Regions from separate parts of the Homo sapiens genome. Here region 1 is linked to region 2. The links come from fine-mapping of genetic effects on gene expression. A gene starts in region 2. The other region holds a variant in brackets. All regions are shown on one strand. Distances are between the middles of the regions.

Evidence for each region. PIP is the estimated chance that this variant, and not a neighbour inherited with it, causes the effect. A credible set is the group of variants that fine-mapping cannot tell apart.
Region 1: its variant is the best candidate, but not a certain one, in a credible set for the expression of TPST1 in whole blood (TOPMed, PIP 0.69).

Annotation. Positions count from the first base shown.
Region 1 is chr7:66,540,822-66,553,296 of GRCh38, reverse strand. It overlaps the pseudogene LOC100420547 and the pseudogene RABGEF1P1. Among named protein-coding and RNA genes, the nearest start is that of LINC03011, 53 kb to the right of the region's middle. The variant C/G (reference allele first, on the strand shown) is at 5,551.
Region 2 is chr7:66,198,969-66,211,443 of GRCh38, reverse strand. TPST1 (tyrosylprotein sulfotransferase 1) reads right to left here and starts at 6,110. Exons shown (of 6, transcript NM_003596.4): 1 at 5,922-6,110. RefSeq lists silencers at 5,708-6,067, 6,218-6,487.

The DNA.
Region 1 (12,475 bases), 340 kb before region 2:
TGGAGACGGAGTCTAGCTCTGTCACCCAGGCTGTAGTGCAGTGGCGGGATCTCGGCAGGAGTCAGCAGGTGTTTTGCGGTTGCTGAATTTCCTTGAGGTGAAGATGTAAGACTTTGAGCAGCACATCCTGATTGGATGGGTTACTGCATGGAAACCTCGCCCAGCCCGATAAAGAAGGGCTTTTTTTGTCTTTTTTGAGACACGGTCTCACTCTGTCACCCATGCTGGGGTGCAGTGGTGTGGTCTTGGCTCACTGCAGCCTCCATCTCCCAAGCTCAAGCGATCCTCCTGCCTCAGCCTCCTGAGTAGCTGGGACTACAGGTGCACACCACCCTGCCTGGCTAATTTTTTGTAGAGACGGAGTCTATGTTGCCCAGTCTGGTCTTGAACTCCTGGGCTCAAAGAATTCTCCTGCTTCAGCCTCCCAAAGTGCTGGGATTACAGGCGTGAGCCACTGCACTCAGCCCACCAGAAGGGTCTTAATGACACAGAGTAAGGGCAGGCTCGGTCCACGGGGCAAATGTCTCTTCAATTGGTGGAGAAAAGTCAGAAACTAGGTGTCTGTGATGTGGCATAGAGACCCTGGGAAAGAGAAGACCCTGGAGGCAGGAGGAGCCCAGGCTATGAGTCAGAGGGATTTTTGTGGGATATTCAACATGAAAAAGAAGTCAGATGCTGCCCCACCCTCTGTCTCAGACTGGTCCATGGGCTGTGGCCATCCTTGAGTCACCATGAGAGATGGCCATATTGGAGGGAGTGGTGGATGTGGGTGACAGTGCCCACCCTCTGGGCATCTGTCCCAAATCTTCCTGAGGCATTTATGTGGCCTTCTGTGTCTCTGCCATGTTTTTTGTTTTTTGTTTGCTCTTTTTTTTTTTTTTTTTTTTTTGAGACAGAGCCTGGCTTTGTTCCCCAGGCTGGAGTAGAGTAGCATGATCTCGGCTCATTGCAACCTCCACTTCCTGGGTTCAACTGATTCTCCTGCCTCAGCCTCCTGAGTGGCTGAGATTACAGGCGCCCACTACCAACCCCGGCTAATCTTTTTTTTTTGGATTTTAGTAGAGACGGGGCTTCACCATGTTGGCCAGGCTGGTCTCGAACTCCTGACCTCAGGTGATCCACCCACCTCCCTGCCTCAGCCTCCCAAAGCGTTGGGATTACAGGCGTGAGCCACCGCGCCCGGCCTGTCTCTGCCTTTGACCTGAGAGCAAACCAGGTCGCCTCCAGATCTGTATGTTCAGTGCCAGGCCTGACCCTTGTAACTGGCTCTTTTTTTTTGGGAAACAGTGTCTCACCCGGTTGCCCAGGCTGGAGCACAGTGGCGCAATCATAGCTCACTGCAGCCTCCACCTGCCGGCCTCAAGCACTCCTCCTGCCTCATCCTCTTGAGTAGCTGGGACAATAGGTACGCGCCACCACGCCTGACTAATTTTTAATTTTTTTGCAGAGACGGGGGCAGTCTCACTACATGGCCCAGGTTTGTGATCAGCTCTTGGTGGAAGGAGGTGGCTTCTAGCTGGGCTATGCCACCCCAGGCTGTGGAGTTCCAGGTGAACCTGGTCCTGACAGGAGTCAGGGCCTAGGGTCTCAGGCCAGGTTGTGGCGTGGCCTTGCTGAATCCTATCACTGTCCCTGCTGAGCAGCCATACTGGGCCCTGTGGTGGTTCAGATGGATGGTCCTGACAGCACGGTCTGCACAGCGTCTGACTCACTTTGTGGCCTGGGCAAGTCCCTGGCATCTCTGCACCTCAGCTTCCCAGCTGTACAATGAGGTGGGGTAAGATTAGATCAATATTTTTTCTTTCTTCTTCTTTTTTATTTCTTAGGAGATGGGGTCTCAGCCAGGCACAGTGGCTCCCACCTGTAATCCCAGCACTTTGGGATGCTGGGGTGGGAGGATCACTTGAGGTCAGGAGTTTGAGACCAGCCTGGCCAACATGGTGAAACCTCGCCTCTACTAAAAATACAAAGAATTAGCTGGGTGTGGTGGTGCATGCCTGAAGTCTCAGCTACTCGGGAGGCTAAGGCATGAGAATCGCTTGAACTCAGGAGGTGGAGGTTGCAGTAAGTCAAGATTGCAAGATTGACTCCAGCCTGAGCGACAGAGCGAGTCTCTGTCTTGGGAAAAAAAAAGAAGGCCGGGAGCAGTGGCTCACACCTGTAATCTCAGCACTTTGGGGAGCCAGGGTGGGTGGATCATGAGGTCAGGAGTTCGAGACCAGCCTGGCCAACATGGGGAAACCCTGTCTCTACTAAAAATAGAAAAAACAGCTGGGCGTGGTGGCAGGTGCATGTAATCCCAGCTGCTTGGGAAGCTGAGGCAGGAGAATCAGTTGAACCCAGGAGGCAGAGGTTGCAGTGAGCCGAGATCGTGCCACTGCACTCCAGCCTGGGCAACAGAGCGAGACTCTGTCTTGGGGGGAAAAAAAAGAAGAGATGAGGTCTCATTCTGTCATCCAGGCAGGAGTACAGTGGCATAATCATAGCTCACTGCAGCCGTAAACTCTGGGGCTCAGGTGATCCTCCGGCCTCAGCCTCCTGTGTAGCTGGGACTACAAGTGCCTACTACCACGCCTGGCTAATTTTTAGAAAAAACTTTTTGGTCTATGGCCATACCACCCTGAATGCGCCTGATCTTGCCTGATCTCAGAAGGGAAGCAGGGTTGGGCCTGGTTAGTAGTTGGATGGGAGAAAAAACTTTTTGTAGAGACACGGTCTCATTATGTTGCCCAGGTTTGTCTCAAACTCCGGGACTCAAGCAATCCTCCCACTTAGGCCTCCCAAACTGCTGGGATTAGAGACGTGAGCCACCACACCTGGCCAATCAGTGTTTCTTTTTCTTTTTCTTTTTGAGACAGAGTCCTGCTCTGTCATCCAGCTTGGAGTGCAGTGGTGTGATCTCGACTCACTGCAACCTCTGCCTCCTGGGCTGAAGCCATCCTCCCACCTCAAACGCCCAAGTAGCTAGGACTACAGGCGTGCGCCACCATGCCGGCTAATTTTTCTTTTTCTTTTTTTTTTTTTTTTTTTGAGACAGAGTCTTGTTCTGTTTCCCAGGCTGGAGTGCAGTGGTACAGTCTTGGCTCACTGCAACCTCTGCCTCCCAAGTTCAAGTGATCCTCCTGTCTCAGCCCGCCTAGTAGCTGGGATTACAGGCATGCATCACCATGCCTGGCTAATTTTTGTATTTTCAGTAGAGATGGGGTTTTGCCATGTTGACCAGGCTGGTCTCCAACTCCTGACCTCAGGTGATCCGCCCACCTTGGCCTCCCAAAGTGCTGGGATTACATGGGTGAGCCACCGTGCCTGGCCCTAATTTTTCTATTTTTAGTTGAGACAGGGTTTCACCATGTTGGTCAGTCTGGGCTCGAACTCCTGTTCTCAAGTGATCTGCCTGCCTTGGCCTCCCAAAGTGCTGGGATACAGTGTTTCTTAATCGGGTGCACATCATAGTCACCCGTGAGTAATTTCTCCCAAGTCCTATCATACACCTTAATCGGAACCATCATGCCAGGTGGCCCCCAGGTGCCTGGTGAAAGGTTCTGTATACCCTGCAGATGCCAGCAGAACGGAGGGGGTCCAGCCAGTCTCTGGCAGTGCCCGCCTGCCTCACCCCTGTCAGTCACATGCTACCCCTCTGCTACCCAGGAGGCCCCCATGATCCTCCCTGAGGCCCAGCCTGCCTCTTGTCCTTCTAGCTGACCTCATACACTCATTGGTGCTATGGCAGGGCCTTCCCTCTGTAGGGCACCTGCAGGTTTCGGGGGGCCTCTTGGGGATACCTGTCCTTGTTCATGGAGACCTCAGGCTCCCTGGGGAGGCACCAGGGTGGAGAGGGGCTATATTTTTTTCAAGGTGGTAAGCCATCTATTGCATGCCCACCTGGACCACATCTATCTCTGCCTTTAAAAAATTTATTAAAATTTTTTTTTTAGAGACAGGGTCTTGCTCTGTTGCTCAGGCTGGAGTGCAGTGGTACAATCATAGCTCACTGCAGCCTCCAACTCCTGGTGTCTCTGTCTTTTTCATTTTTTTTTTGAGATGGAGTCTTGCTCTGTCTCCCAGGCTGGAGTGCAGGGGTGTGATCTCAGTTCACTGCAACCTCCGCCTTCCGGGTTCAGCAATTCTCCTGCCTCAGTCCCCCAAGTAGCTGGGATTGCAGGTGCCCACAACCACGCCCAGCTAATTGTTGTATTTTTAGTAGAGATAGGGTTTCACCATGTTGCTCAGGCTGGTCTTGAACTCCTGACCTTAAGTGATCTGCTTGCCTCCCAAAGTGCTGGGATTATAGGCGTGAGCCACTGCACCCGGCTCTACCTTTTTTTCAAAAGGAACAGTCTAGTCCCCACAGGGCAGAAGGGTGGCTTCCTTGCCTCCGACTCACCTGGCACCTTGGCATCATTGCAGATTTCTGCAAAGGGTCTGAAAAAGAAAGAAAAGAGGTGGCAGTTAGAAAATGAGGTTTTCCCCTCCTTTTTTTTTTTTTTTTTTTTTTTTTTGAGATGGAGTCTCGCTTGGTCACCCAGGCCGAAGTGCAGTGGCACAATTTTGGCTGACGGCAGCCTCCACCTCCTGGGTTCACACCATTCTCCTGCCTCAGCCTCCTGAGTAGCTGGGACTACAGGTGCCCGCCACCACGCCCAGCTAAGTTTTATATTTTTAGTAGATACGGGGTTTCGCCGTGTTGGCCAGGCTGGTCTTGAACTCCTGACCTCAGGTGATCTGCCTGCCTCCGCCTCCCAAAGTGCTGGGATTACAGGCATGAGCCATTGCGTTTGGCCGTTTTCCCCTCCTTCTCACCTGCCCTCTGAGATGTGGTGCTGCTGCTGCTGCAGGAGCCTGGTAACACCGAAATAAAAATGGGGAACACACCGTCCCGACAGAGCATTCCCCATATAGGCCCTGGACGATGGACCTGGGCTGGCAAATCATTCCTCCAGGTCTGCTGTCCTCATCTATAAAGCGAGGATATTGTCTGACCAAGGGATCAGAAACGTGTGCCCAGATTTATGCAAGTGGATAGTCATCACAGCATTATTATCAATTACTATTTTTGAGACAGTCTTACTCTTTTGCCCAGGCTGGAGTTCAGTGGTGCCATCCTAGCTCACGGCAGCCTCAAAGTTCTGGGCTCAATCAGTCCTTCTGCCTCAGCTTCCCAGTAGTTGGGAATGCAGGTGCACACCACCATGCCCGTCTAATTTATTTTTTAATTAATTAATTTTTTTTTTTTTTGAGATGGAGTCTTGCTCTGTTGCCCAGGCTGTTGTGCTATGGCATGGTCTCAGCTCACTGCAACCTCCACCTCCCAGGTTCAAGCGATTGTCCTGCCTTAGCCTCCTGAGTAGCTGGGATTACAGGCGTGAGCCACCACACCTGGCCGTTTTCCTGCATTTTCTAGTTGTTACTTCGGGGGGGTGAACTATCTGTGGGAGAAAGGGAAACCTCCACTTTTTGATTTTGAACAATTTGGGTTTTTTTGACACATGCAAATATTATCTTAATTTAAAAAAACATGCAGGTCAGCACAGTGGCTCATGTTTGTAATCC[C/G]AGCACTTTGGGAGGCCAAGGCAGGCGGATCACTTAAGGTCAGGAGTTCGAGACCAGCCTGGCCAACATGGTGAAACCCTGTCTCTACAAAAATACACAAATTAGCCGGGTGTGGGGGCAGGCACATGTGATCCCAGCTATTTGGGAGGCTGAGGCACAAGAATCACTTGAATGCCGGAGGAAGAGGTTGCAGTGAGCCAAGATGGTGCCACTGCACTCCAGTCTGGGTGATAGAGCAAGACCTCATCTCAAAAAAACAAAGAAACAATACATGTAATATAACATTGAAGGCGGGCTGGGCGCAGTGGCTCAAGCTTGTAATCCCAGCACTTTGGGAGGCTGAGGCAGACAGATCACCTGATGTTGGGAGTTCGAGACCAGCCTGACCAACGTGGAGAAACCCCGTCTCTTAAAAATACAAAATTAGCTTGGGTGGTGGCGCATGCTTGTAATCCCAGCTACTCAGGAGGCTGAGGCAGGAGAATTGCTTGAACCTGGGAGGTAGAGGTTGCAGTGAGCCAAGATCGTGCCTTTGCACTCCAGCCTGGGCAACTAAAGCAAACTCCATCTTAAAAAAAAAAAAAAGAAAGGCCGATGTGGGAGGATGGCTTGAGCCCAGGAGTTTGAGACTAACCTGTGCAATAAAAAAAAAAAAAAAAACAAACGTCTGGGCGTGGTGACTCATGCCTGTAATCCCAGCACTTTGGGAGGCCGAGGCGGGTGGATCACCTGAGGTCAGGAGTTCGAGACCAGCCTGACCAATATGGTGAAACCCCGTCTCTACTAAAAATATTTTAAAAAAATTGGCCACGCGTGGTGGCATGTACCTGTAGTCCCAGCTACTCAGGATGCTGAGACAGGAGAATTCTTGAACCTGGGAGGTGGAGGTTGCAGTGAGCTGAGATCACGCCACTGTACTCCAGCCTGTGCGACAGAATGAGACTCCATCTCAAAAATAAAGTAATAATATATTAATAAAATAATAATTTAAAAATATAAAGAAATGCATCAAAGTGTTGACTTTCAGTAGGAGACTTACAGCTATCTTCTTTTCTTCTATCTTTTCATATTTTCCAGGTTGTTTTGTGTATTGTTCTGAAAATAAGCGAATCATCTATTGTATTAAAAAAAAAAAAAAGACTGGGCCACACAGTTTGGGTGTGGTGGCTCACGACTGTAACCCCAGCACTTTGGGAAGCCAAGGTGGGAGGATCACTTGAGCTTAAGAGTTTAAGACCAGCCTGGGCAACACAGTGAGACCCTGTTGAGGCTGCAGTGGGTCAGGATCATACCTCTGTACTCCTGCCTGGGCAACAGAGTGATACCCTGTCTCAAAACAAAAACCAAAACCCAAAAGACTGTAAGGATATATGGTATAGTAGTAATAACGGAGGCTGGGTGCAGTGGCTCACACCTGTAATCCCAGCACTTTGGGAGGCTGAGGCAGGCAGATCACTTCAGGTCAGGAGCTCGAGACCAGCCTGGCCAACATGGTGAAACTCCATCTCTACCAAAAAATACAAAAATTAGCCAGGGTGGTGGTGCACACCTGTAATCCCAGCTACTTGGGAGGCTGAGGCATGAGAATGGGTTGAAGCCAGGAGGTGAAGGTTGCAGTGAGCTGAGATCGTGCCACTGCACTCCAGCCTCGGTGACAGAGCAAGACCCTGTCTCAAAAAAAAAGAAAAAAAGGTAATCACTGAGACTATGGAATTATAATTATTTTAAAAAATATAATAAATATTCATATTTATATTTAAACATTGATATTTAAATACAAACGTATTTATATTTAAATGTTAAAAATCAGAATTGTATAGTCAGAAACAGTCAAATTTAATTAAAACATGTTTTTGTTTCTTCCCCAGAGAACAAATATAATATCTAAAAAAAAAAAAATCTTTAAAAATAAGTAAATGTCCATAAGTGTTGAAGTTGTATGTTTCAGGAGAAAGAGGCAGGAACTATTGTAGTACACCTGGGTCTGGATCCCAGCTGACCCACCATGACCTTGACTTTCACCCTCCCCATGGTCTTGCCCTCTCTGTTCCCCGTTCCAGAGGCTGGGCACTCACTGCAGCTGGCTAATGATGACCATGTGGACATGCTTTCGGGCCTTCAGGATCTTCTCCAGCCAGTGGATGTCGTACGTGTTGGGGTTCCGGAAAGGGATGTCAGGTGGTGGCTCACACCTGCGATCCCAGCACTTTGGGAGGCCAAGGCGGGTGGATCGCTTGAGCCCAGAAGATCAAGACCAGTCTGGGCAACATGGTGAAACCTCGTCTCTACTAAAAATAGAAAAATTAGCCGGGAGTGGTGGCGCACGCTTGTAGTCCCAGCTACTTGAGAGGCTGGGGCAGGAGGATTGCCTAAGCCCATGAGGTGGAGGCTGCAGTGAGCAGACATTGCACCACTGTACTCCAGCCTGGGCAACAGAGTGAGACGCTGTTTAAAAAAAAAAAAAGAAAATCAACATACACAAAATGTGGGTCATGGGCAGAGCAGCCATGTCCCCAGGGAGCAGGCAGGCCAGCTGGGGGCTCCTGAAGGCTAGGCTGGCTGCAGAGGGAGGGAGGGCCTCCCCCTTTCCCCGGGAGGAGGGCTTGGTGTGCTGACCCTGACCACAGACACTGACTGTATTTCTCGTTGAAGAGTTCCTTCACCTGCTCCTGCAGGATCACCTCCCCAAGTCTGTTGGTATCATCTTCATCTAAAGAGGAAGACAAGGGGGCCTGAGAGTTGGCACTGGCTTGGCCACCAGACCTGCTGCTTCTCCCACCAGGCATCCCTGACCTGCCAAAACATTCTCTGCAGGCCCTGCCTACTCCCATGCAGCTGTTTGTTTGTTTAGTTACGTATTTATTTTATTTAATTAATTAATTAATTTATTTTTTGAGACAGAGTCTCGCTCTGTTGCCCATGCTGGAGTGCAGAGGCGCGATCTCAGCTTACTGCAACCTCCACCTCCCAGGTTCAAGTGATTCTCCTGCGTCAGCCCCCCAAGTAGCTGGAATCACAGGCACCGCACCACCATGCCTAGCTAATTTTTGTATTTTTTAGTAGAGACGGGTTTTCATCATGTTGCTCAGGCTGGTCTCAAACTCTTGGGCTCAGGTGATCCACCCGCCTTGGCCTCCCAAAGTGTTGGGATTACAGGCGTGAGCCACTGTGCCTGGCTGTAGCTGGTTTCTAGCCCCAGTTGTTGGTCTGTCCATCCATCCATTTTTCTTTCTTTGAGACATGGTTTTGCTCTGTCACCCAGGCTGGAAGGCAGCGGTGCAATCAGATAGTTCACGGCAGCCTCCAAATACCAGGCTCAAGTGATCCATACTGCCTCAGCCTCCTGAGTGGTTGGGAATACAGATGTGTGCCACCATACCTAATTTTTTAAATTTTTGGTAGAGATGGAGTCTCACTATGTTGCCCAGGCTGATCTTGAACTCCTGGCCTCAAGCGATCCTCGTCTTGGCCTCCCAAAGTTCGGGAATTACAGGTGTGAGCCACGGTGGCCAGCCCATCCGACATTTTCTTATCAGTGTCCCCAGCATAGGCCCTGTGTTGGGCACAAAACAACCTAAAGAGGCAGGGCTGCTCCCCTGAGGGTCTCCCAGCCAGAGGGGGTGTCACCTGGTCACCAAAGTACAACAGACACACTTAGGAGACAAGGGGCATGAATGAGGATGCCCATCCTGTCTGGGCAAGTCTGGGGAGACCTCCCCCAGGAGAGCAGGATGCTTGAATGGGCTCTCAAGGCCTGACATTGGTGGCTCATGCCTATAATCCCAGCACTTTGGGAGGCAGAGGCAGGCAGATCACTTGAGGCCAAGGGTTCAAAACCAGCCTGGCCAACATGGTGAAACCCCGTCTCTACTAAAAATACAAAAAGATTAGCTGGGCGTGGTGGCAGGCACCTGTAGTCCCAGCTACTCGGGAGGGTGAGGCAGGAGAATCGCCTGAGCCTGGGAGGTGGAGGTTGCAGTGAGCAGAGATCATGTCACTGCACTGCAGCCTGGGAGACAGAGACCTGTCTCAAATAAAAATGAAAACAACAACAAAAAAAATGGGCTCTGAAAAGGCAGGTAGGAGTTTGTGAAGGATGGAGTGGCAGTGTGAAGACACCGGGGCAGAAGGACCAGCCATGCACAGGCACTCAAGGGTGAAAGATCCTATGCTGGCCAGGTGTGGCGGCTCACGCCTGTAATCCCAGCACTGTGGGAGGCTGAGACGGGCAGATCACCCTGGCCAACATGGCAAAACCCCATCTCTACTAAAAATACAGCAATTAGCCGAGTGTGGTGGCGGGCACCTGTAATCCCAACTACTCAAGAGGTTGAGACAGGAGAACTGCTTGAACCCGGAAGGCAGAGGTTGCAGTGAGCCGAAATCACGCCATTACACTCCAGCCTGGGTGACGAGCGAAACTCCGTCTCCAAAAAACAAAAAAAAGAAAAGAAAAAAAAAGAAAGATCCCTTGTCCTGGAAGTGGCTGAACTTGGGGGTGGTACAGGGGAGACAACTGATGGGCCTAGCGGGGTCCGTGCACAGGGGCCGGTGTCACTGTGCTGGGCTGTTGGAAATCCCCTGACTGCTCGCTGGCCAAGGTCTGTGAATGGGAAACAGACTGTGTCTGGGAGTGTGGGGGCTATGCATTCTCCCTGCTCACTGCCCTGGCAACTGTCACGGCTTATCTGCTGCTTGAGCCCCGGCGTGCTCCGCTCTCCCCTCCCTGTAGCCTAGAGTTGCTGCTGGGGTCAGTTAGCCCTGGAGACGGGGCCTGAGCTGGGCTGTAAGGCTGAGGGGTGGTTGGGCTGGAGATGGGGTCTGGGGCAGAGCTCTGCAGCAGCCTGTGGGTTTGTGCCAGGGTTGAGGATGGGGCTGGGATTGCAGGAAGGCTGGTTTGCATGTCCAACAGGAAATCTCTCTGAGAAGCATGGGTTCACATGGGCTGGGCCTCTGGGGCAGGCAGGTTGGGTAAGGGTGAGATGTTGAGGGGGGTGAAGCTAGAAGCAGGCAGGGAGCTAGGGCCGGATGAGGCAGGGCAGAGCAGACTGATGAGTCGTTGGAACAAAATGACTCCTTTTTTTTTTCTCTTTGTTTTTCCAAGACACAGTCTCACTCTGTTGCCCAGTCTGGAGTGCAGTGGCGCAGTCTCGGTTCACTGCAACCTCTGCCTCTCAGGTTCAAGCCATTCTCGTGCATCAGCCTCCTGAGAGCTGGGACTACAGGCGCCTGCCACCACATCCGGTTAATTTTTGTATTTTTAGTAGAGATGGGGTTTTGCCATGTTGGCCAGGCTGGTCTTGAACTCCTGAGCTCAGGTGATCTGCCCACCTCGGCCTCCCAAAGTTCTGGGATTACAGGCGTGAGCCATGGTGCCCAGCCTGGCTCCTGTTTTTTGAGACAGGGTTTCACCCTGTTTCCCAGGTTGGAGTATAGTGGTGCCGTCATGACTTACTGCAGCCTTGAACTCTTTGGCTCAAGCAGTCCTCCCCACTCAGCCTCTCTAGTAGCTGGGGCTCCAGGCATGAATCACCGTGCCAGACTAAGTTTTTTTAAAATTTTTTGTAGAGAGAATCTCTCTCTGTTGCACAGGCTATTCTTGAACTCCTAGGCTCAAGTGATCCTCCTGCTTCAGCCTCCGAAAGTGCTGGGATTACAGTTGTGAGTCACTGTGCCTGGCTCTTTTAATCTTGAAAACTCTGGGAAGAGCTCACTTCTGTTTAGGAGGCTGCCTTGGGAACTGCATCTCCTGGGCTGGTGCTCTGTGCTGCTTGGAGTCTGCAGACCCTATCTGGGTCGCTTGGCCTCCCGTGCACAAGCTGCCAGAATGGAGGCCCCATTCTCAATGTGGGGGCTGCCCAAAGAGCAGGGAGCTTCCCACAGGACAGAGGCTGGGCACCTGCTTGGCCTGGTTCTTCCTTTTCCCAGGGCTCCAACACCCACCCCCTCAGGTCCTCCCAAACCCTGCAGGTCCCTGGCCTGGTCCGTCCACACCTACACTCAGGAATCTCTACACATCTCTGAGTTGCTGCATCTGTCTTCAGGCACAGCCCACCAGCCCCCCTGGGTACCCAAAGACACCGCAAATATCAGCCATTCCAGACAACGTCCTCCTCCCGTGTCCCTATCTCATGGAGTAATGCCTCTAATTCAGCCACACCAAGACCCCACGCTCCACATCCCCTAGAACTCTCATCTCCTGTGGCCCAACATGGCCCTTCCTTTCAGCAGTGGGATGTGGGAAGGATCAAGGTCACCCTTGTCCAAATCCCATGCAGACAACGGTGTTGGAGTCTTGGGCCCAAAGACCAGCTCCTAGAACCTGCAGGGAAGCAACGGCACGTTCCATCTCTCCCCATGCCACTGAGGAATCATTGGTGGCAGGATTCTCAGCAGGCATGGCCGTGGGTGCACAGAACAGAGAAAGGATGGCCTGGACCACACACATCACTGTGTGCAGATGCTTTCCTAGACACTGCAGCCAAGGACACAGAGGCTCAGAGAGGTAAAGAAACTTACCCAAGGTCACACAGCCACTAAGCACCAAGAGTACTCTGTGTCGACCCCAAAGCCCTGGTCTTTCCACTCTACCATGAGCCCTGGGTTTCCTGGTGTCTCAGATTCCCCTACAGTTTTTCTTTCTTTTCTTTCCTTCCTTCTTTCTTTCTTTCTTTCTTTCTTTCTTTCTTTCTTTCTTTCTTTCTTTCTTTCTTTCTTTCATCTTTCTTTCTTTTTCTTTTCTTTTTTTCTTTCTTTCTTTCTTTCTTTCTCTCTTTCTTTCTCTCTCTCTCTCGCTCTCGCTCTGTCACTCAGGCTGGAGTACAGTGGTACGATCTTGGCTCACTGCAACCTCTGCCTCCTGGGTTCAACTGATTCTCATGCCTCAGCCTCCTGAGTATCTGGAATTACAGGTGCCTGCCACCAT
Region 2 (12,475 bases):
ATAAAAATGGACCAGCCGGGCGTGGTGGCTCACACCTGTAATCCCAGCACTTTGGGAGGCTGAGGTGGGCAGATCACCTGAGGTCAGGAGTTCGAGACCAGCCTCAATATGGAGAAACCCCGTCTCTACTAAAAATACAAAATTAGCTGGGCGTAGTGGTGCATGCCTGCAATCTCAGCTACTCAGGAGGCTGAGGCAGGAGAATTGCTTCAACCTGGGAGGCGGAGGTTGCGGTGAGCCAAGATCGCGCCATTGCACTCCAGCCTGGGCAACAAGAGCGAAACTCCATCTCAAAAAAAAAATAAAAATAAAATAAAAATAAAAATGGACCCAGCAGATATAATTTAAATAAAATGTGATAACTCCTTTAATAGGTAAATGTACACAGTACCAGGAAAGCAAGAAACTATGTCAACAAAGGCAATATTTATCCTGGTGTGTGTGTGTGTGTGCGCGCGCGTGTGTGTGGCAGACAGACAGACGGTCTCACTCTGTCACTCAGGCTGGAGAGCAATGGCATGATCATAGCTCACTGCAGCCTCAAACTCCTGGGCTCAAGCAATCCTCCTGCCTCAGCCTTCTACATGGCTGGAACTACAGGCATGTGCCATCACATGTGCCTGGCTAGTTTTTTCCTATTTTGTAGAGACAGGGATCTTGCTATGTTGCCCAGGCTGATCTCAAACTCCTGGTCTCAAGCAATCCTCCCACCTCAATCTGCCCAAACTCTGGGATTACAGGTGTGAGCCACCACACCCAGCTGTCCTGATATTTAAAGGATGAGTTACTACTATTGTTCTTCAGGGTTCTATCACTCCCTCTTTGGGCTCTCAGCCCAGTTCTCAGTCCTAGATACCTATCACCATCTCATGGGAAGCATCTTTAAAGTAACAAGGTCTGGCCCTGCACCAGACCAAATGATACAGAATCCCTGTGGATGCCTCGATCCCCCATCCTCATTCTTTAAAAGCTCCCCAGGTGGTTTTTAAGTAGTGCCTATGTTGAAAATCACTGAACCAGGCAATCTCACCTACTTCTGATGACTTCACTTTCAATTCTAGCACAGACCCTCCATATATATCTCCATCTTTAGGGCCAACTGCTCTCTCAGGCGATTTCCTGGGCATCAAGATGTTATCATTGGCTTCCTCCTTTTCCCTCAAAATTTGTTTATTTTCCTGTATTTCCTACCTGGATGAACAGAACCACCATTACCCAGACACCCAAGCCTGAACTCAGTATGTCATCCTTGACCCTTCCTTCTCCCTCTCTCTCACCTATACACCTAACCAGTTCTCCTTACTCCACAAATTCACTCCCAAATCTAACCCCTTAGCCTCACTGGCCTCATTATCTTTCACCTACATTCCTATAATGACCACCTATTGGTCTTTGTGCACCTAGTCTTGCCCCTCTCTAACCTGTTCTCTACAATGCTACCAGAGATCAGAGTAATTTTTCTGAAAATACACCTGGGGCCAGGCGCAGTGACTCACACCCATAATCCCAACACTTTGGGAAGTCAAGGCAGAGGGTTACCTGAAGCCAGGAGTTCAAGACCAATCTGGGCAACATAGCAAGACTCCCATCTCTAGAAAAATAAATAAACATAATCAAAATATACCTGGTCACAATACTCATTCATGTTACCTGCCAGAGTAGGGGATGCAGACATGAATCAAAACCCATCCTGATTTCAAAGCCCTACCCTTAGAGTAGAGAAAGACATGTAAACAAGTAAATGACAGTAGAGATGAAGAGACATGGATTGCAGGCAGATGTGGGAATGCTTTACTGCAGAGATAACCAGAAGCCTGTATAATCTACAGGTGGCTAAGTGGGAAAACGCATTCCACGGAGAAAGAGAAACATAAAGCCATTTAGGCATGTTCAGGTAATAGAGGTGATTTTATATGGCTGAGGCAAAAGGCAAGGCATGCAGCAAGACACAAAGCCTGAGATGGGAACAAGCCAGACTTTGTAAGATCTGCCCAGGAAGAAATCCTTCAAAGGTTCCTCGCTATCATCAGGATTATGTGTTAGGACACACAAGGTCATTCATGAGCGGCTCCCATATACCTTCCCAGCCTCATTGCTCATTATGCCCATTCTCCAGCCTTTCCAAATTACCAGTTCTTTCCCAAAAGCACCAGGTTATCACACATTTTTCTTTTTTCTTTAATTTTGAGATGGAGTCTCACTCTGCTGCCCAGGCTGGAGTCAGCTCACTGTAACCTCTGCCTCCCAGGTTCAAGCGATTCTCCTGCCTCAGCCTCCTGAGTAGCTGGGATTACAGGCGCCCACCACCACGCCCGGCTAATTTTTGTATTTTTAGTAGAGATGGGGTTTCACCATGTGGCCGGGCTGGTCTTGATGGTCTTGATCCGTCTGCCTCAGTCTCCCAAAATGCTGGGATTACAGGCGTGAGCCACCGCGCCTAGCCTAAGACACACTTTTCCATATGTTACCTTCTCTTCCAAACTGCCCATCTCCCCTTACCTTTCCTTGTCTAGATTCAGCTCTTCTGAAAACTTAGTTTACTGAGCACTATGTACTTGGCAATTTGCTAGAAACTGGAGATACAATGAGATATGACACAACTCTTTCTCTTAAAGGGTTCACTCTCAAGTCAGTGAGAAAAATAAGAAAACAGAACATTATAAATAGTAAAAATGGGCTGGGCACAGTGGCTCACGCCTGTAATCCCAGCACTTTGGGAGGCTGAGGCAGGCAGACTGCTTGAGGTCAGGAGTTTGAGACCAGCCTGTCCAACATGATGAAACCCTGTCTCTACTAAAAATACAAAAATTAGCTGGGTGTGGTGGCAGGCGCCTGTAATCCCAGCTACTCGGAAGGCTGAGGTACGAGAATCACTCAAACCCTGGAGGCAGAGGTTGCAGCGAACTAAGATGTTACCACTGCACTCCAGCCTGGGCAACAGACCAAGACTGTGTCACAAAAAAAAAACTAAAAATGGTATAAGTGGTAAAAATGGAGATGGAAGTATGTACAGGGTGCTGTGGAAACACAAAGAAAAGTCACCTAACCCAAACTAAGGAGGAGGGGTAGTCAGAAAAAGTCCTAGGTGCCTGTAGACAGAAACTTGTCCTCACTCTCACCAGGGTGATGCTCCCAGAGCACCCTGTAGTCATCTCTGTCACAGTCTTGATTTTACGGTAGTGAATGGTCTGTTTCTTTACTGCTTTTTTCTCTGGATCACAAAGGGCCCAGGAAGGGGATGCGCCCATGCTACAGAAGGCTTGGAAGGACTGGCTCAACATGCTAAGGGTTTGGGAGCTGATGAGAATTTTTAAAGAAAACAAGCAGCATGATCAGATTGATAGTTCAGAAATGGAACCAATTCCAGCAGCAACGTGGAGGATTAAGTAGACTACAGGACCCAGAGGTTCAGAAAAAGCATAACCAAGGTCTGAACCAGTCTTCTGGCAATGAAGAGAGAGAAAAAAAAAAGATGTTATGAAGAGAGGAAAAAAAAAGATCTGAGGTAGCAACAACAATAGGATCTATGCTAGACTTAATGTGAGGAGAAAAGAAGATGATTTTAAGGTTTCTAGAGTAAAGATCTTAAAATAGTAATGTTTGTATATGTGCTTAAAGGGGGCTATGGGTGGAGAGAAAGGGAAGGAAAAGGTAACCACATTTGAAGTAATCAAGCATCCACATACAGCTATGCAGTAGGCAGATGAAAATTAGAACCTGAGGTTCAAGAGAAACGGGGACTAAATAGACGTCTTTGAAAACCATAAATATATAGGTGCTATTTGAAGCCATGAAAGGAAGTGTAATCACACAAGGAAATTAGAGAAAAGAACAAAAATGAAACCCTAAGGAATGCCACGTTAATCTGAGAAGAATAAAAAAAGAAAAGGGAAGCATCAAGAAAAGCTTTGTTTTGGTCTGAATGGTGGAAACCTGAGGATGTATACCATCCAACAGAAAAAATAATAATATGGGAAGAGATCAAAGACGTTAGCTTTCGAAAGTAAGACCCCTCTTCTTCTGAGATCAGAGGAAAGGATATTAGAAATCAGGTACAGACAGGCACAGACAAAAATGACCTCTCCTTAAGAGTTCAGGGCTGATGCCCACCAATTTATTCTGTGAAGTTAAGTGGCAAAATAAGCAATGAAGAGAAGGCAAGAGTAGGACAAAGAGTCAGAGAAAAATGGTAAAGATCCATAAACAGCCATTTAGATTTTAGGACATAAGAGGAATCTAGAGGTTAAGTCAAAGGATCTCCAGGATCCAGAAGTGCAGAAACAGCACCCAGCAGTTTAGTTATATGATTTTTGCCAGTCTGCCTTGGGAGCCCAGGAGCAGAAAAAGCTGACTGATTCGTCCAGGCTTGAGACCATCAGAGCAAAGGTGGCAAGAATAGTACAGGGCCAATGACAATGCTTTTATCATTTTAAAAAGTCAAACGTATTTTACTCTTTTTTAAAAATCGACTCGCTATTTCCTCCAAGAGCGAGTGTTTGGAGAGGGGGAGGGAGAGGGGTGGATAATTCCTCTCTCACTCTTAGAGGACTTGTCAGAAGTTTCATTCTTAAGCATATTTGGTCTGTACAGCAGCTGATTCCAGGAAATCCAAATCCTGATTCCTCCTGGATCTTAAAAGATGAAAATTCATTGCAGCTCCCTGGACTATCCAGCTAATAGATAAACACGTACCACATTGCTTATATACTATGCCACTTTAGCTGGGAGGTAGGGGCTCTTTCTTTCCTAAAAAGAAAGTTACCCAAACACTGCAGATGGGGATGGAGAGGGGATGGGGAGTAATTACACCGCAAAGCCTGCTGACTAGCAGCCTAAGAATCCTTTACAAAGGCAATTAACATAAAACAATACATGGCACGGATAGCAGAATTGTTTCTTCTTAATGAATGCAGTAATTGACCATTTAATCGCTTTACTGGAGTTCACCAATTTCTCCTGCCATCTCCCATACCATTCTTCAGGCAGAGTCAAATCCCTGTGGACACTGGACTTCTTGCTACCATCATCTGGAAAGTACAAAACGCCTGGAAGGAGGAAGAGGCTAACATGCGTGACCACCCACCATGTGCCAGGCCTACTGTGTGCTAGACTCTGGGCAAGGGACTTTACATGTTATGGGGTGCAGCTCATGTAAGGACGAATGAAGATATTACACTATGGATCTGAGCCAGGCGCAGTGGCTCACGCCTGTAATCCCAGCACTTTGGAGGCCGAGGCAGAAGGATAGCTTGAGGTCAGGAGTTCGAAGCCAGCCTGGGCAACATAGAGACTCCATCTCTCAAAAAAAAAAAAAAAAAAAGCGATGAATCCGGCATTGCAGAGAGTGGGAAAGTGTCTGGAGGTTTAAGAGTAAGAGAAGGAAGAGGAGATTGCGATGGTGGGTGGTCAAAGTGAGGGGAGAAGAGGCGAGTTGGGAAAGGAAGGTGCTTAGGAGCAAAAGGGCAAGACCCAGGGACACCTGGAGCGGGGCGGGCGACTGCCATGCAGACAGGACTACGTACAACGGGTAGGATGATGGGGCGATGAGCTCAAGAAGCGCAGCCGGGGTAGACGTGGGGGCAAATGTCCGATCCCGGCGAGACGAGGGTCTCATCCCAGGGGACTGCGGGGCTAGGACGTGGTCCCAGGGCTGCGAGAAGGGAGAGAAAGGGCAGAGGGGAGAGGCCCCGGCGGCCGGGGCGAAGCCGAGCCCGGGAAATGCCGGCGATGGGGGAAGGGGCGTGGGAGCAGGGGCCGGACGGGCCAGACCCGGGGCTCCGCGCTCGGGGGCGGGGTTGGACAACCGGGAGGCACCGAGCAGAAGGCGACAAGGGGCCAAGGGATGCCAGGACGGGGCACAGGGCCGGGTGTGAGGAGACGAGAGGGGAGCGGAGCCGCAGCGAGCGCCGCGTCCCCCTTACCTGGGATGAGTGAGGAGCCGCCGCGCCGCCTGGACGGCATCCTGGCCTCAGCCGCTGGTCCCACCGCCTTCGGTGGGGGGCCACTCGGGAGCCCGCCCTCACCGCCAAGCGCCGGCAGCTGCCAGCCTGGACCGGCCCCGCAGAGCAGCGCCGTTCCGACCCGCAACCGAAGCCGCCTCAGCAGCGTCTCCCGCGGTCGCCAACTCAGCGACAACCGCCAGGGTCCGGGGAGGTGGCGGGATCACACATCTGCTACGATTGGCTGAGCGGACGATGTGTCGGCTGCTCTGATTCGTGAGTTCCGGCCGGCTGCCCACCGAAGGAGGCGCGGCTGGGAATGGAGCTGGGTCCGGCAGGCGCCGAGGGGCGGGGGTCTGACGTCGCAGCCGGCCAGCGCCCCCACAGCCCTTCCCGTGCGCGCTCCCGAGGGGGCTTCCCGGCAGCCGCAGGCCTGGCCGGGTGGTTGCCCTAGCAACAGCGCGCGTGGCCTGGCTGCAGGGGAGCCGCGGGCAGGTGGCGGTCCTCACCGCCCCCACCCCCAACGTGGGTGTCCCAGAGGCCTTCATCAGTGAAACCCTAGGACAGGAGAAGAAAATGAGCTTTTCCTGATAATTCCTCTCCTCTGCTTCAGAGCCCACCTTTGCCCGCTGCTGGCAGAGAAGCTGTCATCTCCTCGGGGAGATAACGCGCAAATGCAAATAACGAACTCAAACACTATTTCATCCCCACGAGAGTGTAGACGTGCAATAGTCCCTCCCAACCACAGAGGTGGGGGGCTGACGCCCTAAAAGAAAGAAATGAAAACTAGGGAGAAAAAGGCAAAGAAGCAAAAGAAAGGTGGGGAAAGGGCAGATATTTCACAAAATGATCCATTCATTTTACAGTTTCTTCCTACAGACACATCTACACCAGGTTCTGTCAAAGCAATTATTTCTACTCCAGTGACATGGATTAGAGAAGGCATGAGTGCAGAATCTAACAGCTGTATTCAAAATTGCTCTCTGCTAGGCCAGGTGGGGTGGCTCATGCCTCTAATCACAGCACTTTGGGAAGCCAAAGCTGGTGAATCACCTGAGGTCAGGAGTTCGAGACCAGCCTGGCCAACATAGTGAAACCCCGTCCCTGCTAAAAATACAAAAATTAGCCGGGCATGGTGGCGGACGCCTGTCGTCCCAGCTACTGGGGAGGCTGTGGCAGGAGAATTGCTTGAACCCGGGAAGGTAACTACCTTCCTTTGCACACAGTATAATATTTTCAAAGTTCATCCATGTTGTAGCATGTATCGGCACTTCATTCCTTGTTACGGCCGAATAATAGTCCATTATACAGACATCACCTTTTTTTTTTTTGAAGAGTCTCACTCTGTCTCCCAGGCTGGAGTGGAGTTATGTGATCTTGGCTCACTGCAACCTCCACCTCCTGGGCTCAAGTGATTCTCATGCCTCCGCCTCCAAAGTAGCTAGAATTACATGCATGTGCCACCATGCCTGGCTAATTTTTATATTTTTAGTAGAGACGGGGTTTCATCAAGTTGCCCAGGCTGATCTTGAACTCCTGGCCTCAAGTGATCTGCCTGCCTTGGCCTCCCAAAGTGCTGGGATTACAGGCATGGGCCACCGTGCCTGGCTGGACATCATCTTTTATTTATCCATTAATCCATTGATGGACATCTGTTTCTACTTTTTTGGCTATTATACATGATGCTGCTATGAACATTTGTGTAGAAGTTTTTGTGTGTGGCCGGGTGCAGTGGCTCACGCCTGTAATCCCAGCAGTTTGAGAGGCCGAGGTGGGCGGATCACAAGGTCAGGAGATCGAGACCATCCTGGTTAACACGGTGAAACCCCGTCTCTACTAAAAATACAAAAATTTAGCCAGGCATGGTGGCTGGCGCCTGTAGTCCCAGCTACTCGGGAGGCAGAGGCAGGAGAATGGCGTGAACCCGGGAGGTGGAGGTTGCAGTGAGCCAAGATTGTGCCACTGCACTCCAGCCTGGGCAACAGAGTGAGACTCCGTCTCAAAAAAAAAAAAAAAAAGAAGTTTTTGTGTGGACCTCATTTGATCTTTACAGCAACTGTCTAAGGTACATATGATATCTCCTTCTACAGATAATCAGCTGACTGGGTGTGGTGGCTCACGCCTGTAATCCCAGCAGTTTGGGAAACCCAGGCAGGAGGGTCCCGTGAGCCCAGGAGTTCTAGGCTGCAGTGAGCCATGATGGCACCACTGCACTCCAGCCTGGGTGACAGACTGAGACCTTGCCTCTCACCCAAAAAAAAAAATAATAATTATATATATGTGTGTGTGTGTGTGTGTTTGTGTGTATATGTGTGTGTGTGTATATATGTGTGTGGGTGTATACACACACACACACAGAGATAGATAAGAAAACTGACTATAAGATGGTAGACAGCAATTTTGTTGTTTGTTTGTTTTTGTTTTGAGATGGAGTTTCGCTCTTGTTGCCCAGGCTGGAGTGCAATGGTATGTATGACCTTGGCTCACTACAACCTCCGCCTCCCGAGTTCAAGTGATTCTTCAGCCTCAGCCTCCCCAGTAGCTGGGATTACAGGCGCCTGCCACCATGCCCAGCTAATTTTTTTGTAGTTTTATTAGAGACAGGGTTTTGCCATGTTGGCCGGGCTGGTCTCAAACTCCTGACCTCAGATGATCTGCCCGGCTCCACCTTCCAAAGTGACGGGATTACAGGTGTGAGCCACCGCGCCCACCTTTTGTTTTGTTTTTAGAGACAGGGTCTCACTATGTTGCCCAAGCTAGTCTCGAACTTCTGACCTCAAGCGATCCTCTAACCAGTCTTTTAATGTTAAGCAAGGGCCAAGTTACATTCTGCTTTCTACATTTCAGACCTCTTCAGGAAAAGGACTCACCATGGCCTCAGTAATACGGAAGCCACCACCGGTGCACAGCCCCTGCCAGGCTCTTTCCACAAAGTAGAGATGGAGATCTGAGATAACCTCCCACACTGCCCAGAAAATCCTTCCCCCACCTATAAGACCTAGAAAAAGAATTGAGTAGCCACATAGGGAGCTGACACTGGTCCTCCTAGCACGTATTAAACTGTGAGAACGAATTCTAGATGTGGGGAATTCAGTAAGAAGAAAGGACACGATCCTTTCAGTGAAACCTGTCATACGGCAGGATGTCTCACTGAGCAGGACAGCTTCAGGTGATCCGGGGACTACACTCTGAGGCAGAAGTAAGAAGCAGGGTCCAGCCTCTGACAGGGTCCAGCCTCTGAGGCAGAAGTAAGAAACAGCTTGATCTGAAGCAAAGCTCAGGGTTATTGAGAACAAGATGAACTTTTCCTGCTTTCTAAATCTGCCCCAACACATATAGTATATGTGCTAGAAGGAAAAAAAACTCCAAAATATACTCAAGTGAAAAGAACAAAGTTCAAAACAGTGTGTATAATATACCCATTTGTATATATTTAAAATACACATACACACACACTTGTTATTTTCAGAGGAAATATCAAGAAAGATGCACACATTAAATTGGTAACAGTGTTGTCTCTGGGAGGGAAACTGAAGGACTTGGGCACAGGAATAGGAAAGAGACTAATTCTTTGCTATGTACTCTTGGGCACCTTTAAAAATTATGTGCTATATGCTTGGATTACCTTTTTTTTTTTTTTTTCTTATTTTAATAGGCAGGGTCCCATTCTGTCACCCAGGCTGGAGTACAGTGGCATAGTCATAGCTCACTGCAGCCTCAAACGCCTGGGCTCAAGTGATCCTCCCACCTCAGCCTCCTGAGTAGCTAAGACTACGGGTGCACGCCACCCACTCCCTGCTAATTTTTTTTTTTTTAGACAGAGTCTCGCTCTGTTGCCCAGGCTGGTGTGCAGTGGCATGATATCGGCTGACTGCAACCTCTGCCTCCCAGGTTCAAGCAATTCTCCTGCATCAGCCTCTCGAGTAGCTGGGATTACAGGTGCCCACCACCACGCCCAGCTAATTTTTGTATTTTTAGTAGAGACAGGGTTTCACCATGTTGGCCAGGCTGGTCTCGAACTCCTGGCCTCATGTGATCTGCCCACCTTGGCCTCCCAAAGTGCTGGGATTTCAGGTGTAAGCCACCGTGCCCAGCCTTTTACTTTTTTTTTTTTTTTTTTTTTGGTAGAGATGGGATCTTGCTATGTTGCCCAAACTGGTCTTGAACTCCTGGGCTCAAGCAGTCCTCCAACGCTGGCCTCCCAAAGTGGTGGGATTATAGGCATGAGCCATCACGCCTGGCCTGGATTACCTATTTACAAGGAATGAATACATAACTTTTTTTTAAAGGAAAACTTGTTCCTGAAAAACTGTCCAAGACTGTATGCACATCTGATTCACACCACATTTCTATTCCTCTGTGTAATTTAATGAGCCTCATAGATTCTGAACACTCTTTCTGCGTTTCTATTTTCTCTCCCGGGCTTTACCTTTCCAGGTGATCAGCCCAGAATTAGATCACCTCACCAGAGAGCATCAGCCAGGTATGGTGGCTCACACCTGTAATGCCAGCACTTTGGGAGTCTGAGGAGGGCAGATCACTTGAGATCAGTAGTTCGAGACCAGCCTGGTCAACATGGTAAAACCCAATCTCTACTAAAAACACAAAAATTAGCCAGGTGTGGTGGGGGCACACCTGTAATCCCAGCAACTCGGGAGGCTGAGGCAGGAGAATCGCTTGAACTCAGGATGTGGAGGCTGCGGTGAGCGGAGACTGTGCAACTGCACTCCAGCCTGAGCGACAGCGCAAATCTCTGTCTCAAAAAAATTAAAAAAAGATAACCTCGGTCGGGCGCGGTGGCTCACGCCTGCAATCCCAGCACTTTGGGAGGCCGAAGCGGATGGATCATGAGGTCAGGAGATCAAGACCACCCTGGCTAACACGGTGAAACCCCGTCTCTACTAAAAATACAAAAAAATTAGCCGGGTGTGCTGGCGGGCGCCTGTAGTTCCAGCTACCCGGGAGGCTGAGGCAGGAGAATGGCGTGAATCCCGGAGGCGGAGCTTGCAGTGAGCCGAGATTGCGCCACTGCACTCCAGCCTGGGTGACAGAGCGAAACTCCATCTCAAAAAAAAAAAAAAAAAGATAACTTCACCTGTGTATAGATGGCTTTGCCCCATCTTCAGGCAATTCAAAGGGCTCACAGCCTGTTTTCTTCCAAACAGCCTACGCAACCCTGGCAGAGCCCAGAAGAGGAGAAAATGGGCCAGTGCTTGCTGCCATCCCAGTGAGAGCTGCGAGTCTCTCTCCTCTAGGTCAGCCTTTGCACCGCTTCTACCTTGGGAACTCACCTCTAGAGAAGACCTGGCCAAGGATGAGTGAGGACTCCTTACTACAGCAACCTCACCTCCTGGAGGGAAAGTCTATGCAACATACCTAGGAATGTGCAGGCTTTGAGAACTGAAAAGGCAGCATTGTCCTCCAGCACTTTTCCTTTGGGGGTTGTTGGATTGCTTTGCTCTTAAGAAGGACACAGGCCCCGCGCAGTGGCTCATGCCTGTAATCCCAGCACTTTGGGAGGCCGAAGCGGGCAGATCACGAGGTGAGGAGATCAAGACCATCCTGGCCAGCATGGTGAAACCTCTGGCCAGCATGGTGAAACCTCCTCTCTAAAAATACAACAATTAGCCGGGCATGGTGCCGCGCGGCGGTAGTCCCAGTAACTCAGGAGGCTGAGGCAGTCAGATTCCTTGAACCCAGGAGGCAGAGGCTGCAGTGAACCGAGATAGTGCCCCTGCACTCCAGCCTGGGCGACAGAGCGAGACTCTGTCTCAGAAAAAAAAAAAAGGGACACAAATGCAGCAAAGCTCTCTTCATGGCATTTTCATTCTCGGGTCTGGCACGGAGGGAAGATGGTGGCAGAGGTGGGAAATGGCAGAGATGGGGAGTCCCTCAGAAATGAAAAATTTGAGGCCAGGTGCAGTGGCTCACGACTGTAATCCCAGAATTTCAAGAAGCGAGGCGATCAGATCACTTGAGGTCAGAAGTTCGAGACCAGCCTGGCCAACATGGTGAAACCCCATCTCTACTAAAAATACAAAAATTAGCTGGGTGTGGTGGTGGGCACCTGTAATCCCAGCTACTCGGGAGGCTGAGGCAGGAGAATCACTTGAACCCAGGAGGTGGCGGTTGCAGTGAGCTGAGATTGCACCACTGCACTCCAGCCTGGGAGACAGAGCAAGATTCCATCTCAAAAAAAAAAAAAAAAAAGAAGGAGATGAATGTGTCTGTCACAACCAGCAGCAACTGGCCTGGCACTGGATGGATGTTTGGATGGACGGATGGACAGGTAATGAATGGCTAGATGAACAGCAAACACTGCAATTGTCAAAGAAGGCCAGCAGGGCACGGGAGCCAGGAGCCGGGACCCAGGGAGAACAGGAGGACACTTGGGTCACTCAGGGTCCTGCCAGGAAAGGCCAGGGAGACTCCAGGAGAGGACTCCAGAGCCAAAGATCTTTGACGGAGAACTGAGAGTTAAGCTTTCACTCCACCTAAAGTGACCTAAAAGCCCTGGCTAATTTGGGATGAGATGA